2 separate regions of the Homo sapiens genome follow, and region 1 is linked to region 2. The links come from fine-mapping of genetic effects on gene expression. A gene starts in region 2. The other region holds a variant in brackets. All regions are shown on one strand. Distances are between the middles of the regions.

Region 1 (8,332 bases), 150 kb before region 2:
CCAAACCACAGCTCGTTTTTCTTTTTCCTGCTACTGTTGCCTGGTCTTGTCAATAAAGTTTTACTCAGCACATGTGCCGAGGCAGCATAGCAGAGGTGAAAGAGCCGGAACGGGGAATTCTGCCACAGTGTGACCTTGTAGAAGACACTCTGGGCTTTCTAATCTGTAAAATGATGGGGGTTTGCTTTAGATCGGGGTCACTGCACTTGATGCAAAGGGCCAGATGGTAAATATTTTAGGCTTTGCAGGTCATAAGGTCTCTGTTGCTACTCAACTCTGTTACATGCAGCAACTATTGACAATATGTAAACTAATGGGCATGGCTGTATTCCAATAAAACTTTATTCACAAAACCAGGCAACAGCAGCACAAAAAAAAAAAAAAAAAAAGAGGGCCATGGTTTGCCAACCCCTGATTTTGATCATTCACGTCGCTTCTTTACTACTTTGCCTCACGAAATTCATGTTTTTAATACTTTTCTTTATACGAATTCACCGGTATTCCTTAGAGCTTAGCAACACCATAGGTTTGATGACCTAAACAAATACAGGTTTGTATTTGTGGCATACATGTGAAAATAAACTTGTGAGTTAAAAATTAAAAAGAAAAGTGTGTGGGCCACCTAAACCATCTCCTGAAGCACAGAGGTCCGTGCTCTGTGCTTTGGGAGACATTTTTTAGTTCAATATATTTTTTTTCGAGATGGAGTCTCACTCTGTTGTCCAGGCTGGAGAGCAGTGGCACGATCTCGGCTCACTGCAACCTCTACCTCCCGGGTTCAAGTGATTCTCCTGCCTCAGCCTCCCGAGTAGCTGGGACTACAGGCACGTGCCACCATGCCCGGCTAATTTTTTATATTTTTAGTAGAGATGGGGTTTCACCATGTTAGCCAGGATGGTCTCCATCTCCTGACTTTGCGATGACCCACCTTGGCCTCCCAAAGTGCTGGGATTACAGGCGTAAGCCACCGCGCCAGGCCTAGGTCAGTGTTTTTCAAATCACTGAGGTGTTGAGGGGGAAGAGGAGTCTGGGTGGGGGAGGTCAGGCCTGTACCCTGACTTGGAACAAAGCAGTTTTGCTTAATCTGTTTAAGACATTTGTTTGGGAAACGGGTTCTGGGGCCAAAGGAGTTTGGAACCATCTAGAAGTGGCTTCAAAATGAACTTGAGGCCTGTGCAGTGGCTCATGCCTGTAATCCCAGCACTTTGGGAGGACGAGGCAGGAGGATTATCTGAGGTCAGGAGTTCATGACCAGTCTGGCCAACATGGCAAAACCTCACCTCTACTAAAGATACAAAACTTAGCCAGGCATAGTGGTGCATGCCTGTAATCTCAGCTACTTGGGAGGATGAAGTGGGAGGACTGCTTGAACCCAGAGAGGCAGGGGCTGCAGTGAGCCAAGATCGCGCCACTGCACTCCAGGCTGGGCGACAGAGTGAGACTCCATCTCAAAAAAAAAAAAAATAAAATAAAAAAATTAACTTGAAGCATTGAAGCTATGAGATTTCCCAGGTCTGTCTACACGGGGCTGTTAGTTCCCATGCTGACTCTTAGATTTCTTTTTTTTTCCCTTTTTTTTTGGGAGACAGCATCTCACTCCATTGCCCAGGCTGGAGTGCGATGGTGTGATCATGGCTCACTGCAGCCTCGACCTCCTGGGCTCAAGTGATCCTCCCACCTCAGCCTCCTGAGTAGCTGGGACCACAGGCCCACACTACCACAGCCGGCTAATGTTAAAAATTATTTGTAGAGATGGGGTCTCCCTATGTTGCCCAGGCTGGTCTCGAACTCCTGGCCTCAAAGCGATCCTCCCACCTCAGCCTCCCAAAGTGCCGGGATTACAGGAGTGAAGCACCGAGGCTGGCCCCTTTTAGATTTCTTAACCAAAGAAGGATAATTTCCTGTTATACCTCGGTCCAACCCTCTCTCCTCAACCTGAGACACGTATCCTCCGGTGTGTTCTCCACCTCTTAGCAGTCAACAGCTTACCGAGTTTAAAGCCAGTTCCTGCTTCCCTCCAAGCCAGCTCTTCCTGCAATGGTCTCAGCGCACACTAGCTTCCTTCTTCCCACTGCTTGGGCTGGAGCCAGGGCGCTAGCCTTGGTTGTGCACACCCCACAGCCAAACCTTTAGGCCACTGGCTGCATTTTCAGTCTGTCTACAGGCTTGGGCCACCTCACCCCTCCACTGCCACCTCCCTGCTCTGAGTCACCACCTCCCTGCTCTCCTGGCCACTGCAATGGCTTCTGAACACCTGTCCCTGCTTCAGTCCTTGACCTTCTGCTATTGATCCTTAACATGGTGGCAGACTGGGCCGGCTCTGCTCCCCTCCACAGGCCCAGACTTGACACCCAAGCCTGAGCCGGGTTGGCAGGCCCCTGCCCACTCTCCCTGGCTTTTTCTGGGGCCCGGGCTGTCCCCCTCACTCTCCCTTGAGCACACAGAGCTGTCCCCTTCCTCCCAGCTCTGCTCACATGCCACCTCCTCAGGGAGCCCTTCCTTGACCCTGCCAGACATCCCCAGAGAGAATGGAGCCTCAGCAGTGCCAGGGAAGCAATCCTCCACCCACTCATGTCTGGGTCTCCCCACATTTGACTACCAGCTCCTCGAGGCCAGGGAGTCTTATCTGCTGTGTCAACTCCTGCATTCCCAGCATCATGGCCATGCCTGGTGCACATAAGCTCAACACACATTTGCTGGGTGTTTCAGGTTTGAACCTCTCCCTTGCGCTCCTGGTCTGTATGAGCCCTGGAGGATGAAGCCAAGGACTCAGTCCTTGGAAGCCAACTGTCCTGAAGGTGGTCTCAGGGCTGCCCCCATCATCCCACTCTACCCTGAAAACCTATGATGCCTGGTCAATGCCTGGCACTGTCTGTCCACAGCCATAATGAGCTGCCACGCATGCCCACTGGTCCGGCACTGATGGCATTTGATATTTAAAAACAAAACAAAAAACACACTAGGGGTTCCATGGCAAGCAGGAGCTGAATAGGAGAATCTCACTGGGGGTGAGGAGAGAGAGCCCTTCACCCACACCGCCTTGAGGACAGGGCTCGAGTCGGCACACATTGGGCCTGCTCTTGCTGCCTTGAGGATAAGGCTCGAGCTGGCACACATTGGGCCTGCCCTCGCTGTAAAGAGGAGACAGCAGTTCAGGCCCTGCAGCAGGAGCGAGAGCACAGGGTGTGCCTCTGAAACCCAGCATAGGGCCGGGCCCCCTGCATGTGGGAACTGCCCTCACTGCTCTGGGGAGGTAGGGGCTTGGGCTTGTGCCAGAGCGAGCTGAGTGTGAGCCTGGTGGCAGCCCTCTGTGCAGCGCCATCTTGGGAATGTCACCCACCTCTCCATTTCTACATCTCCCATCAACTTACCTCTCACAGTTGCTAAAAGGACAAAGTGGGGCCACTGATTCCTTCCTCGAGTATTTACTAAGCATCTACTCCACGATGCAGCACGCACAAAATGGGCACAGACCTTGCTCTCCTGGGACTTCCGGTCCAGAGAGAGAGGTCAGACATGAAATAAAAACACAGAAACTGTTCACAGCTGTAAGGAGCTAGGGAGGTGTTCGGTGTGACGAGTGAATCTAACGAGGGGCCGGGGCTTGTCTAGGATGGGGCTTGGGAAAGTCATCTAGGCAAGGTGACTATTTCAATGGCCTAGGCGGCATGGGTGAATAAATTATTATTATGCAAGCATTCTATTAATCTTTTATTATTAAGACGGCTGAAAAAAATGATTACATATTATTAGTGAAGCTCAGTGGAAGAGAAGTGGGTGGAAAAGCTCTAACCCGAGAGGCCGCTTTCACAGGATGGGAGGATGGGTTACATTTTGCAAGGTGTACCAAAGGGTTAAAGTCATTTTCATTAAAATTTAAATTTCAGCATGCGCTCACTCTCCCTTCCCCGTCCTTTGAACGTTTGACTGGCAACCATTTCATATTTCAATCTCGGCAGAACAAATTGAATTAGATGTTGAAACCAAGCTCGGCTCTGTTCACCAAAGCCTGCGTGCTCTGCTCACACTAATCCTTTCCTAGACGCTGCGGAGCACAGACGGGCGCTGCGAGAGACGGCCCTGCACAAAAGACAAAAAAGACCAAGGCGGCAGGAAAAGGAGAGGAGGAAAAACAAGCGGGCAGAGGC[T/C]GCTGGAAATTGTCTTCCACCTGATGCATGGGGCTTAAAGCCTAGGAGACAGAGCCTGCGTCCACGCAGCAGGGAAGGCCAGTGTGGAGGCACACAGAGCGACCCGAGTTTCTGTCTTGTGTCTGGGGCACCCAGCACAGTGTCTCGCACACAGCAGATGCCCAGCAGGTGTCTGATGGATGAATGAATGAATGAATGAATGAATGAGGGAGAGGACTCACTCTATCAGCCCGTGCCTCTAGCCTGTGCCTGTTCCTCCCCTCTGCAGAGTGGGCCCGGCTATTCTCCTCACCCTCACAACTTCCTGAGAAGTGATAGCATGCTGCGCTCAGTGGCCTGGTGGCTCTCCAGTCCCCGTGCCCAGTGCAAACCAGCGGAGGATGCCAGCTCAAGTTTCTGGGGACGAAACAGGCAGACCTCCGGGCCTGGCTTGGGATCCCAGTGGCACCCCAGGATCACCCCATGTTCGCTGGCTCTTTCTTTAAACTGTGTAAGTCTGTGGAATGACCTAGAGGTGCTGACCCAGGGGCCCCGGAGTCTGGTTTTCAGAAGAGACAGTTCTGCTGCCGTGGCCATGGAGTCCTCACCCACTTGAGACCCCCCAGTTGAAAGGGTTAGGAACAGGCTGGGCATGGTGGCTCACACCTGTAATCTCAGCACTTTGGGAGAACAAGGTGGGTGGATCACTTGAGGTTGGGAGTTCAAGACCAGCCTGGCCCACATGGTGAAACCCTGTCTACTAAAAATACAAAAAATTAGCCGGGCGTGGTGGCTCACACCCGTAATCCCCACACTTTGGGAGGCCGAGGTAGGTGGATCACTTGAGGTCAGGAATTCGAGACCAGCCTGGTCTACATGGTGAAACCCAGTCTCTATGAAAAATACAAAATTAGCCGGGCGTGGTGGTGCATACCTGTAATCCCAGCCTTGGGAGGCTGAGGCGGGACAATCGCTTGAACCAGGGAGGTGAGCCCAGATCACGCCACTGCACTCCAGCCTGGGGAACAGAGCGAGACTTTGTCTCAAAAAAAAAAAAAAAAAAAAAAAAGAAAGGGTTAGGAACAGACACACAGACACAGCAATAGACAGGCAGCTGCTCCTGTGGGGGTGCTCACCTGTTTCCCCACAACCATTGGCCCATTTGGGCTTGAACTTTGGTTCTGTGCAGGAAGAGCCAGGTGCTGGTTTGCCTACTGGGGCCAGTGGGCAGGGGGGCACCTCCTACAGGCTCCTTCCTGGATCATAGGCTCCTCCCCAACATGGCGCAGCGCCCTGTGAGTCCCTATCCCGCCCCAGCCTCTGGACGTGGGCCCAGCTGGCCTGACATCTGCTGGGTGCAGCCCCACAAGCTTGCCTTGTTTTGAAGTTATGTTCACAATAATGATGGCAACTACCATTACTAAGTACTCACTAGGCATGACACAGTCTGCTAACTACTTTCCATTCATGACCTTCTGTTTCTGTCTTAACCAATCCAATGAGGCAGGAATTCCTGCACCCATTTGAAAGACATGGAACGCAAGGCCTGGAGACACTGAGAGCCTAGAGATTCTAACGCAGGCCTTTGGAGTCAGGGCCTGTGCATTCCGCTCTCCTCCTCCCGTCCCCACTGTCTCTCACTCCTGTCCCTCCTCCAGGCCCCACTGTCCCTCACCCCTGTCTGTTCTCCAGGACCTGTCTGACCACCCATCTCCCTCCTGCAGTCTGACTGTGTGTATCCTATAGTAGAGATGCCAGGGCCCTCCTCACCCATCCAGGGGTGGACCCTTGGTGGAGACGCCACGTGGGACAGAGGGAGAGGGCGGGATGCCTGGAGTTTCTCTTCTACCAGCCTTCCAGGCGCCCGCTAGTGCCCACTGCTGGCCAAACTGAACACAAGCCTCTTGATAAGGGAGTTTCAGAGACACAGCTCAAGGGGCCAGGCCCCTGAGACCCACAGCGGGTGGGAGACGGACGTGAGGACAGCAGATGCGGTTCCAGCCAGCCCTCCACTCTGGAAACAGCCTGTCCCCGTTCCTCCCAGCTAACTGAGCCACACTCTGAACACCGGGTCACAGGCCTCATCCAGATGTGTGCCTCTGGCTTTTCTGAGGCACGTGTCCTACTGACCTCCCACCTCCCTGTGTCCCTTTGGCCCCTCTGGCCTCTTGGTGTCACCTCTCCTTTCCTACGCAAGTGCTCTGGTCCAGCCTGTTATGGTTCTCTTTCCCGGCTCTCTGGTGACCATATCGGCAGGGAAGGGTCACAGCCCCCTGAGATGTGGCTGAGGCAGTTTCCTGCCCCCTGCAGCAGTCAGTCCTGAGCCGGGTCAGGAGGCTCACCGCCCTGGAGGAGTGCTCCCTCCTCAGTGCCACCTCTGTGGGTTATTTCTGGAGTTTCTCTCCCAGATCTTCTGGGTGTCTGTGTCTACCAACGTCCCATCATTGCTTCAAAAACAACCGAAGCCGCCTTTCAGAAAGCTCCCGTGTCCCCCTCCCAGTGACAGCGGTGACTCAGTCCCTTGCTGCCTTGGCTCAAAGGCTTAGAGTCTCCCAGTTCAACCCCCACATGCTGGATGGAGGAATTTCTCGTAAGACGCTTTCACCAGTCCCTCTTCTCCAAAGGAAGAAGAGATGAAGCCCCTCCTCTGGGCCAGGCAAATGACTTTTCCCGAGCTCCGCTTTATGGCTACCTGGCTGTACTTTACTGCATTCTAGAACAATGATGATGATTGTAACAAAAATCTTAATTGCTTTCCTAGTTCCCGTTTAAAACAGTTATTTTTGACAGGGTAAAAGGCTCTGGGTCACTGAGATCTTGCTCACACTCCAGGTTGTCCCCTGTACTGAGTGCTGTGACTGAGAGGGACAGGGGATGGGGGATAGGGGGTTGGGGCTGGGTGTAAAGAGGAGCTGGGTGTGGTTACTGCAGACGAACTGATCAGGAGTCTGTCTCCCTCAGTGAGGAAGCAGAAGTTAAACCGGGGCATCCAAACTTTTGGCTTCCCTGGGTCACCCTGGAAGAACTGTCTTGGACCACACATAAAATACAATAACACTAGTGATAACTGATGAACTAAAAAAAAAAAAAAAAATTGCAAATTTAAGGAAGTTTACAAATTTGTGTTGGGCTGCATTCAAAGCCCAAGCTTGGGTTGGACAAGCGTGATTTAAGATCTCAAAGGAAAATAAAAAGGCGCCACGCAGGAAGAATGTGAGGGAAGGGCATCCCAGGCAGAGGGAAGAGGCAGCTCGAGGGCCCTGGGGTGGGAGCCTGCAGGGAGGAAGGCCGGGACAGCGAGTGCAGGGTCAGGTGAGGTGGGGCCTCGGTGCTGGGGTGAGCAGCGGGACTCGACTTTCCATGCGTCAGGGAGGCCCTAGAGGGTTTGAAGCTGCAGACTGACATGATCCAGCTCACGGATCAGTCAGGCCACACTGGCTGCACGAGGACAGCTGAGCCGGAAGAGAGGAGATGAGGGTGCAGTCTGGTGGGCGCGGCATGAAGGGGCACCCTGAGATCTCTGTGGGAGTGGACTCCACTACTCCTGTGTGCTCACAGATCTGCCCCTTCCAAACAGTGCGTGCCTGGGGCAGGGGTGCAGGGGCCAGGCTCAGTATATGGCCTCTAGGCTGCCTCACTCCCCACTGCCAATTCCAGGCCAGGCCTGGCGAGTGGCTGGAAGCTCTCCCTCCTCTTGCTACCTTTCACTCTCCTGCAGTTCCTGAACCTTCCCCAGCTCACCAGCTTTCTTTTGGCCACAGGGAAGGCAGTGACGCAGGAAGGGTTGGACAGCCCTGATTCCCATCATTTCACTGTGTGAGCCCTGGCAGGGGCCTGCAGCTGCCTGGGCCTGATAACGCTTTTGTGACGGAGATGCTACTTGCATCACTCCATTTTAAAGATGAGGAGACTGAGGACTCAGCAGGTTAAGTCACTTGCCGAGGCTCACGAGGCTGGAGAGTGGTGGACTGTTACGGAGCCCAGGCAGATCCGAATACAGAGCCCATGTCTGCTCACCCCGCACCAAGCCCTGGATGATGCTGAATCCTGCTCTGGGGGGAGGTTCTAGAAGCATCCTCTGGGCCAGTTAAGTCAGTGCCAAAAGATGCCTGCCTCTGCACCAGGCCCGTGGGTCTACACCTGAGTTTTGGTGATCAGCCAGCCATCCCTGCTGGCTCTGGTGGTGTGGAAATGTGAGTACAAAT
Region 2 (8,332 bases):
TCCCTGGTCCGGCTATAGATCTTTGTTCTCCCACAGTCCCTGGGGCTCACCCTATCATAGCACTGATGTCACTGAGCCAAAGCAGCCTGCTGACCTGTCAGCCCCCTGCCTGCCCAGAGACAGCAGGCTCCATGAGGACAGGGGCTGAGGCATCACCTTTTTCTCTAAACTCCCAGCATCATTGAGTGCTTGCTAAATGCATGAGTGAATGGATGAGGTAGAGCTGTGGTTCTCAAGGTGTGGGCCTCAGACCAGCAGCATGGTCGTCACCTGAGGGCTTGTTGGATGTGTGAATTCTTGGGTCCTGACTCCATGCACTGAATCAGATGCTCTGGGGACGGGCCCAGGAAGCTGTTATAATAAGCTCTCAGGTGATTTGTATGCACATGAAAGTGTGTGAATCGGTGAGGAAGAAAACCAAAGACATCACAAAGTGAAGAGGGACGGTCTTTGAACTCAAGTGCTGAGTGAAAGATCAAACAACGTCACACTTGACAGGAAGGTAAGGGTGAGACTCCTGCCCACTCACTGTGATCCGGGATGTGTCGATGAAGCTCTTGTTGAAATGCTTCTGTGCCTTCTGGGCCTCTTCCTCGGACTTGAAGCCAATAAAACCAAACTTGCGGAACTTGCCATCTTTGGTGAACTTCAGGCTGCAGTCTGTCAGCGTGCCGAAGGCGGCAAACAGCTGCCTGAAACGCTCCTCCTTCATCTAGGACAGAGGGAAAGGAATGAGAGACGAACTGGAAAGTCCCCAGAGCAAGGGGACAAAATGGGCTGGAAACCTGAGGCCACGAGATTCTCCAAGGGTGGCCTTAGATGAAGAGGGGCAGAGTGTACTTTTCTAGTTACAACAGGTTCCAGCTCTGACTCTAGCACGAGTTGTGTGGCCTTGAGAAAGTCCCTTAACCACTCACTGATGTGGAAATCATGACTCATAATGGCTGCAAATGACATCTTCCTACCCTATGGGGCTCCTATGAGGATAAGACCAATTACAGAAGCAGTATTACGTCTGCTACATAGTAGATACCTAATAAATACTTGTAGGAATAAATGAAAGAATGAACAGGCATGGTAAGCTATATATATCTTTGTTAATAAAGCCCCCCCAAAAGATGCCCACATCCTAATCCCTGGAAACTGTGGATATGTTACCTTACAAGGCAAAAGGGACTTGTCAGGTGTGACTGATATGGAGATGGGGAGATGATCTGGATTATGCAGCCAGGTCCAATGTCACCTCAAGGGTCCTTATGAGAGGGAGGCGGGAAGATCAGAGAAGATGGAAACAGAAAGATTGGAAGATGCTATGCTATTGGCTCCAAATATGGAGTATATAGCTATGAACCAAGGAAGGCAGGTGCTTCTAGAAGCTGAAAAAAGGCAAAGGGACAGATATTCCCACAGAGCTTCCAGAAGGACTGCAGCCCTGCCAAAGCCTTGATTTTAGGATTTCTGACCTGCAAAACTGTAAGATAAGGATTGTCTGGATTGTTTAAGCCACTAAGTTTGTGCTAATTTGCTATAGCTGCACTAAAAAACTAACACACTATTATTATAATTTGGTCAAGAAGCCCCACACTATGGAAAACAGGCTCCTGGCTTCTCACCATCTTCACTGCAGCCAGGCTACCCTCACAACTCAGTTTTCTAAGCAGATACTGGGATATTTGTGTGTGTGGTAGTGGAGTTGAGGGGACATTCAGGGCCCCACGAACAGCCAAAATAAGTTTGAAAATGCAAGAAGCTAGAGGCCTTGGCAGTCCAGCCAGAAGATGACATTTTCTGAGGTAGCTTCTTACTAACTGATCTAATCAAAATCTCAATCACACTGTGAGTTAGGAATTTTTGTCCACATTTTATAGAGAAAATGAAACTCATAAGGGATAAATGATCTGCCCAAGGCCTACAGAATCAAGGTTTGTGACTCAATTCAGAAATATAAGACAGTGAATTCAATTCCTCAGTGCCTGGGAGAGACCTGGCTCAAGTCTGAATCCATCATTCCTTTGCCAAAAACCTTTCGGTGACTTTCTGGCACCAAAGTCTCAAGGACGAGCACCTAAAGGAAAACATGCAATTCTTCAAGATCTGCCCTGACCAACCTCTTCAGCACCACGCTTTGACAAATTTCTCACAGCCTTCTCACTTCCGAGGTTTTACTTTGGTTGTCCCCTCTGGGTGATATTTCCCAAGACAGGCCCTGGCTAACTCCTCATTCTCAGTTCAATCATCTCCTATTCCAGGAGGCCTTTCTTAGATGCCTTAGATGGACGAGATAACCAACCCTCACTGTGCTCCCACAGCACTCGGTTCACATGTCAGTGATGCACCTTGCATCGTAATGATCTGGTGCCTCTCTTTTCTGCTAGCCTGCAAGTCCCATTAAAAATAAGGACACAGGCTTATCCACCTCTATCTACAGTGTCAGCAATATCACAAGTACTCACTACTAATTATTTCCTCAATTCAATCCCTAAACTAAAGATTGCTCAATTCAATCCCTGCTCTATAAATTACACCAGTGTGTGACCTCAGGCAAATCCCTGTACCTCGCTGTATCTTGGTTTCTTTACCTTTAAAATGGGCGTAAAAATAAAACTTACCTCACAGGGATATGGTGAGGATTAAATGTTACTTTACCTAAAGCACCTGGAACAGTGCCTGGCACACAGTAAACTCTCCAAGTGTCAGCTGCAACTGCCCTTGTTTTTATTATTCTTTCATTCATGAGATAAGACAAACAATGATAAGAGAGTCAACTACACTGTGAAGTGCAACAAAGCTGAATTTGGGAAGAAAAGGAAGTGCAGCCACGCTAAAAATCCTCATCGCACAAAGCAAGGCATCAAGAGACATGTCTAACCTGATGGATGGATGAGTAATAGATATTTTTAAGTATACTACTCAGAGATTATAACAGGATAATTAAAAACAAGAATATTACAGACACTGGAGAGGAGGAACAGATGATCTAAATTCCTTATTTTTCACAGTTGAGGCCTAGCAGATAGTCACTGGGGCAGGCAGGTCAAAAGGAGGAAAGTACACTCCTCAAATATACAGAGATACATGTGAGGAGTCCCAAAAACAAATCAATGAAGATGGTTACTCCTGGACAGAGAGGGAAGGTAGGACAGAGCAAAGACTTTGCTACTCATGTTATACACTACTATACTGTTTGAATTTTGAAAACTGTGTGTTACAAAGTTCCTTTGTCCCACCTGACAAATGAAAAAAAAAAAAGGAAAGGAAAAAACTCACAACATTAGAACAGAAATGGGGGCCAGGTGCAGTGGCTCACGCCTGTAATCCCAGCACTTTGGGAGGCCGAGGCGGTGGATCACCTGAGGTCAGGAGTTCGAGACCAACTTGTCCAACATGGCGAAACCCCATGTCTCTACTAAAAATAAAAAAATTAGTCGGGCTTGGTGGCGCGTGTCTGTAGTCCCAGCTACTTGGGAGGCTGAGGCAGGAGCATCGCTAGAACCCGGGAGGCAAAAGTTGCAGTGAGCCGAGACTGCCGAGATTGCTCCACCGCAGTCCAGCCTGGGAGACAGAGCCAGACTCCGTTTAAAAAAAAAAAACAAAAAAAGAAAAAAACAAAAAACAAAACCAAAAAAAGCCATGAAAGAGAGAGAAAAAAAAGAGATAAGACAAACAATGATAAGAGAATCAACTACACTTGAAACACAACAAAGCTGAATTTGGGAGGGAAAGGAAGTGCAGCTACGCTAAAAATCCTCATCCCACAAAGCGAGGCATCAAGAGACACTGTCTAACCTGATGGAAGGAGCAGTAATCCATTTAAAAACAAAAAAACAAAACAGAACAAAAAACAGCGAGAGAGAGAAAAAAGGATGATCCATTCGAGCCCACCGCATCTAATCATCTAATATTACGTACATTCACCTATTTTGCCTACCACGTGTCGGGTTCTGCGCTGGGCTCCAGGGAAACAAAAAAGTATGGCTGGGTCACCACTCCCCACTTACTGGATAAATGCTGTAAAGCCCTTTACCCACTCCGTATTCCTACTTGCCCTAAGGATGGGAGTGGGAATTGGAACGCAGGTCCGCAGATTAATATTCCCCATGTCTTCCCCAACAGTTTCCAGACTGGGAGAGGAATATAAATACAGTGTCGGACCATGTCCCGGGTCAACAACTAAAAAACAGTGATCGAATGAAAGAGGTTGTGGGAGCAGGGTATTCGCCACAAGGTGGGAGTTGTCATCTCCCCGAGAAGAGGTGTGTTAGGAGTCAGGTACCAAACAACCGGCCGTGAAACCGTAAGCAGTCACTATTCCTCTTTCCTCGGGATCAAATGGGGATAAGCCCAGGATCCCGCCCCCTTTGAGTTCAGAATTGGCCCGGAGTCCTGCCCCAGAGCAAAAATTCTTCGATCACCTCCAGGCATCTCTTCCCTACCTCACAGCTCCCGGCTGGTCTCATTTCAGATTCCCAAGTCCTGCCTCTGCACTCACCCCATTCGGGAGATTCTTCACGATCAGTCGCGACATGGCGCAGGGTCCCCGCTGTTTTGATTCCAACACGACTGGTCAGCGTCTTCCACCAAGTTTCACGCTACCGCCCTGGGCGCCGCCATCTTTACCGAGCCGGAACACAGTCACGTGGCTGAGACCTTGGCCTGACCTGTCCGGAAGTAGGCGTGGCTAATCCAAAACTACTCAGGGAGGTCACACCCCACAAGGGGTGGGCCTGGGCGCTTGCATTTTGCGCAGGCGCAGGGCCTTGGGCGGATTCTGTGAGACGCCAATGCAGCGGAGAAGGCGGCAGGGGGCGCCGGTCCCTAACATGCGCCGGTTTAGCTCGGTGTTAAGGGTCGCGCCAACCGGGCAATCGCGTTCTCTCCTTTTTCTTATTTTATTTTTATTATTGAGCCTTAGGACTCCCCTGAGAACGGGGGCAAGATTAGGGACCCTTGCCTTCCTCGTAGAAATGGGGAAAGTGAAGTTTAGAGAGATTGCCAGCCAACACAAATCAAGTATTGAGCCTTTTGTGTAAATACTTGGAATGAACATGTTGGAAATAAACGCTCTCATTTTGCAGGCAGATAAACTGGGAATCGTGCGTGTAAAGCAGCTTGCTCAAAGTCTTATAACTATGAATTGGAAAGTCAGATTCGAGCTAGGGACTGCCTAGGGCCCTACAATGAGTCTCTACGCCTTCAACCCCAGCCCCACAAGCATTTTGCCTCCCTTCCTAATGTTTGGAACTCTCAGCTGGCCAATCTTCTAGCTGAGAGATCTTGGCCAAAATGGCCTCTGAGCCTTTGTGTCTACTTCTATAAAATGGGAATAATTCTTTATTATGCTAGGGGTTAAGGAGGTGAGAACGTGAAAGGGATGTTATTTTCCTATTGCTTCTCTGAGCATTCTCGGTACCTACTCTTGGATGGAGACATCCTATGAAAACCCCTATTTTCACTCTTAAATGACGGTATTTCCTTTCTGTTTCCCCACAGTGCCTCAGCTGCACTGGACGTTGCTGCCAAGCTTCTGCAATTTCCTTCACCTAAAAGACATTCCGTCCCCCCTTCTTATTGTTAACAGCTTTATCACAAACCATGCAATTCACCCACTTAAAGTGCACAATTCAATGGTGCTGACTATATTTACAGAGGTGTGCAGCCATCACCACAATCAATGCTAGGACATTTTCATTACCCCCAAAGAAACACCACACCCTTTAGCTATAACCTTCCAATTCCTCCCTCTCCCTTCCCTCTGATAACCACTAATCTACTTTCCGTCTCTATGGATTTGTCTGTTATGGACATTTCATGTAAATGGAATAATACAATATGTAGTCTTTTGTAATTGACTTCTTTCACTTAGCATAATGTTTTCAAAGTTCTTCCATGTTGCAGCATGAATCAGCACTTTATTTATCTGTTTATTTATTTGAGACAGGGTCGGGCTCTGTCACCCCGACTGGAGTGCAGTGGCACAATCTCAGCTCACTGCAACCTCCGCCTCCCAGGCTCAAGCCATCCTCCCACCTCAGCCTCCTGAGCAGCTGGGACTACAGGCACATGCCACCATGCCTGGCTAATTTTTTTTTTTTGGTAATTTTTTGGTAGAGGCGAGGTTTCAACATGTTGCCCAGGCTGGTCTTGAACTCCTGGGCTCAAGCAATCCACCTGCCTTGAACTTTCAAAGTGCTGGGATTACAGACGTGAGCCACCACACTTTTTTTGCTGAATAGTATTACATATATGGATGTATTACATTTTATTTATTCATCAGTTGATGATGGACATTTGGGTTGTTTCCGCTTTGTGGCTACTGTGAATAATCTTGCCGTGAACATTTACCTGTAAGTTCCTGTGTGGGCATATGTTCTTATTTCTCTTGGATATATTCCTAGGAGTAGGATTGCCTGATCATATGGTAACTCTATGCTTAACCTTTTTAGAACCTGCTAACCTGTTATCCAAAGTGGCTTCCCCATTTTATATTCCTACCAGCGGTATATGAAGGTTCAAATATCTCCACATCTCCTCCAGTGTTTGTTATTGGGTCTTTATAATCATAGCCACTCTAGTGGGTGTACAGTGGTGACTCAATGTTTTGATTTGCATTTCCCCGATAACTAATGAAACAGCATCTTTCATGTGCTTTTGGCCACTGGAATATCTTTCTGAACCCATTCCCATCCCCTCTCTAAGACCAGCTCAAACATGGCATCCTCGAATATGCCTCTTTCCTACTGAGCCCCAAATGCAGGGAGCTCATGCATCTGCCACAGCATAAACCTACAGAACTCGCTGGTGAGGAGCGCACAGTGTAGGTTCAGAGTTATAGATGAGGCCACTTGTTCTTTCTACATTATGTTGCCATAGGGGCATCCTTAGATCCATCTTTGCAAAGCATCACACTGGGCACCAGGAGGAGACAGGTAATAGGAGTTCATTAAATGCTAATTGTAAATTAAGGTCTGTCCATTCAACAGAATTCTATGCAGTTGTTAAAAAACGGTAGGTATGTAGCTATAAATGTTTTTGAAGGAAATGCATCAGTCAGCAGGACACAGAGGTATACTCAAAAGGATTTAACAAAAGCAAATCTGGACAAAAAGCTATTTACAGAAGGGTGGGCAGTGTAGTGGGATGAATGATCCCCTGTCCCCTCACCACCACACACACTGGGGGCATCCTGACCCCTGGAAGCTGTAAATGTGACTTTATTTGCAAAAAAGTGTTGTATTAGTTTGTTCTCACGCTGCTAATGAAGACATACCTGAGACTGGGTAATTTATAAAGGAAAGAGATTTAATGGACTCACAGTTCCACATGGCTGGGGAGGCCTCACAATCATGGTGGAAGAGCAAGGGATGTCTTACCTGGTGGCAGGCAAAGAGAGAATGAGAACCAAGTGAAAGGCTTTCCCCTTATAAAACCATCAGATCTCGTGAGACTTATTCACTACCACGAAAACAGTATGGGGAAACCACCCCCATAATTCAATTATCTCCCACTGGGTCCCTCCCAGGACACGTGGGGATTATGGGAGCTACAATTCAAGATGAGATTTGGTGGGGACACAGCCAAACCATATCAAGGGTCTTTGCAAATGTACTTAAGGGTCTCAAAATGAGATCATCCTGAATTATCCTGGTAGACCCTAAATCCAATGACACATGTCCTTTTAAAGGACACACAGAGAACGTCATGTGTAGGTGGAGGTAGAGTCTGGAGTGATGCAGTCACAAGTCAACGAAGACCTGGAGCCACCAGAAGCTGAAAGAAGCAAGGAAGCGTTCTCCCTTGGAGGTTTTGGAGGGAGCATGGCCCTGCTGGTGCTTTGGGGGATTCTGGCCTCCAGAAATGTGAGAGAATAACTTTGCATTGTTATGCCATCTAATTTGTGGTAATTTGAGACAGCACCTGCAGCAAATGAATACAGGAAGGGTTAAGGGAACCAACAAAGGATGGCCAAACCCCAGGGCCTGGCAACAGTGGGGAGCTATCACCACCCCTGGGGCTGAAGGGCAGAGTAGGACATGTCATTCCTGAGCTTCAGTGATGCCAGGAGCCATGGAAGAGGGACGTACTTTAAGGACTAGAGCTATAGAGAGATACAGCCACTGTGGAACCACAGGTGTGTGTGTGTCGGGGATAAATACACTGTCCCCTCTTTCTCTTCCCAACTGCAGTTTCCTACTGGAGCCTCCCCTTGGCCGAACCAATGGGAAGCTGGAGGCATGATCACAGATGTTGCAGTGCACACAGATTGCATCTGGGGCACAGAGCAAAGTGGAGGAGCAGGCTCAGGGAATGGGAGATGGGCTGTTAGAGAAGAACT

What was found. PIP is the estimated chance that this variant, and not a neighbour inherited with it, causes the effect.
Region 1: its variant is fine-mapped to the expression of RBM19 in cerebellum (GTEx, PIP above 0.99). The same link has a PIP of 0.9 or more in cerebellar hemisphere, prefrontal cortex, spinal cord and whole blood.

What each region holds. Positions count from the first base shown.
Region 1 is chr12:113,813,042-113,821,373 of GRCh38, forward strand. It overlaps a transcript of RBM19 not described here. Among named protein-coding and RNA genes, the nearest start is that of LINC01234, 44 kb to the left of the region's middle. RefSeq lists enhancers at 4,907-5,834, 5,835-6,760. The variant T/C (reference allele first, on the strand shown) is at 4,149.
Region 2 is chr12:113,961,703-113,970,034 of GRCh38, forward strand. It overlaps RBM19 (RNA binding motif protein 19), which reads right to left and starts at 4,623. Exons shown (of 24, transcript NM_016196.4): 1 at 4,490-4,623; 2 at 530-712. The coding sequence starts at 4,525. RefSeq lists enhancers at 835-884, 1,025-1,074, 3,045-3,973, 3,974-4,901, 4,860-4,929.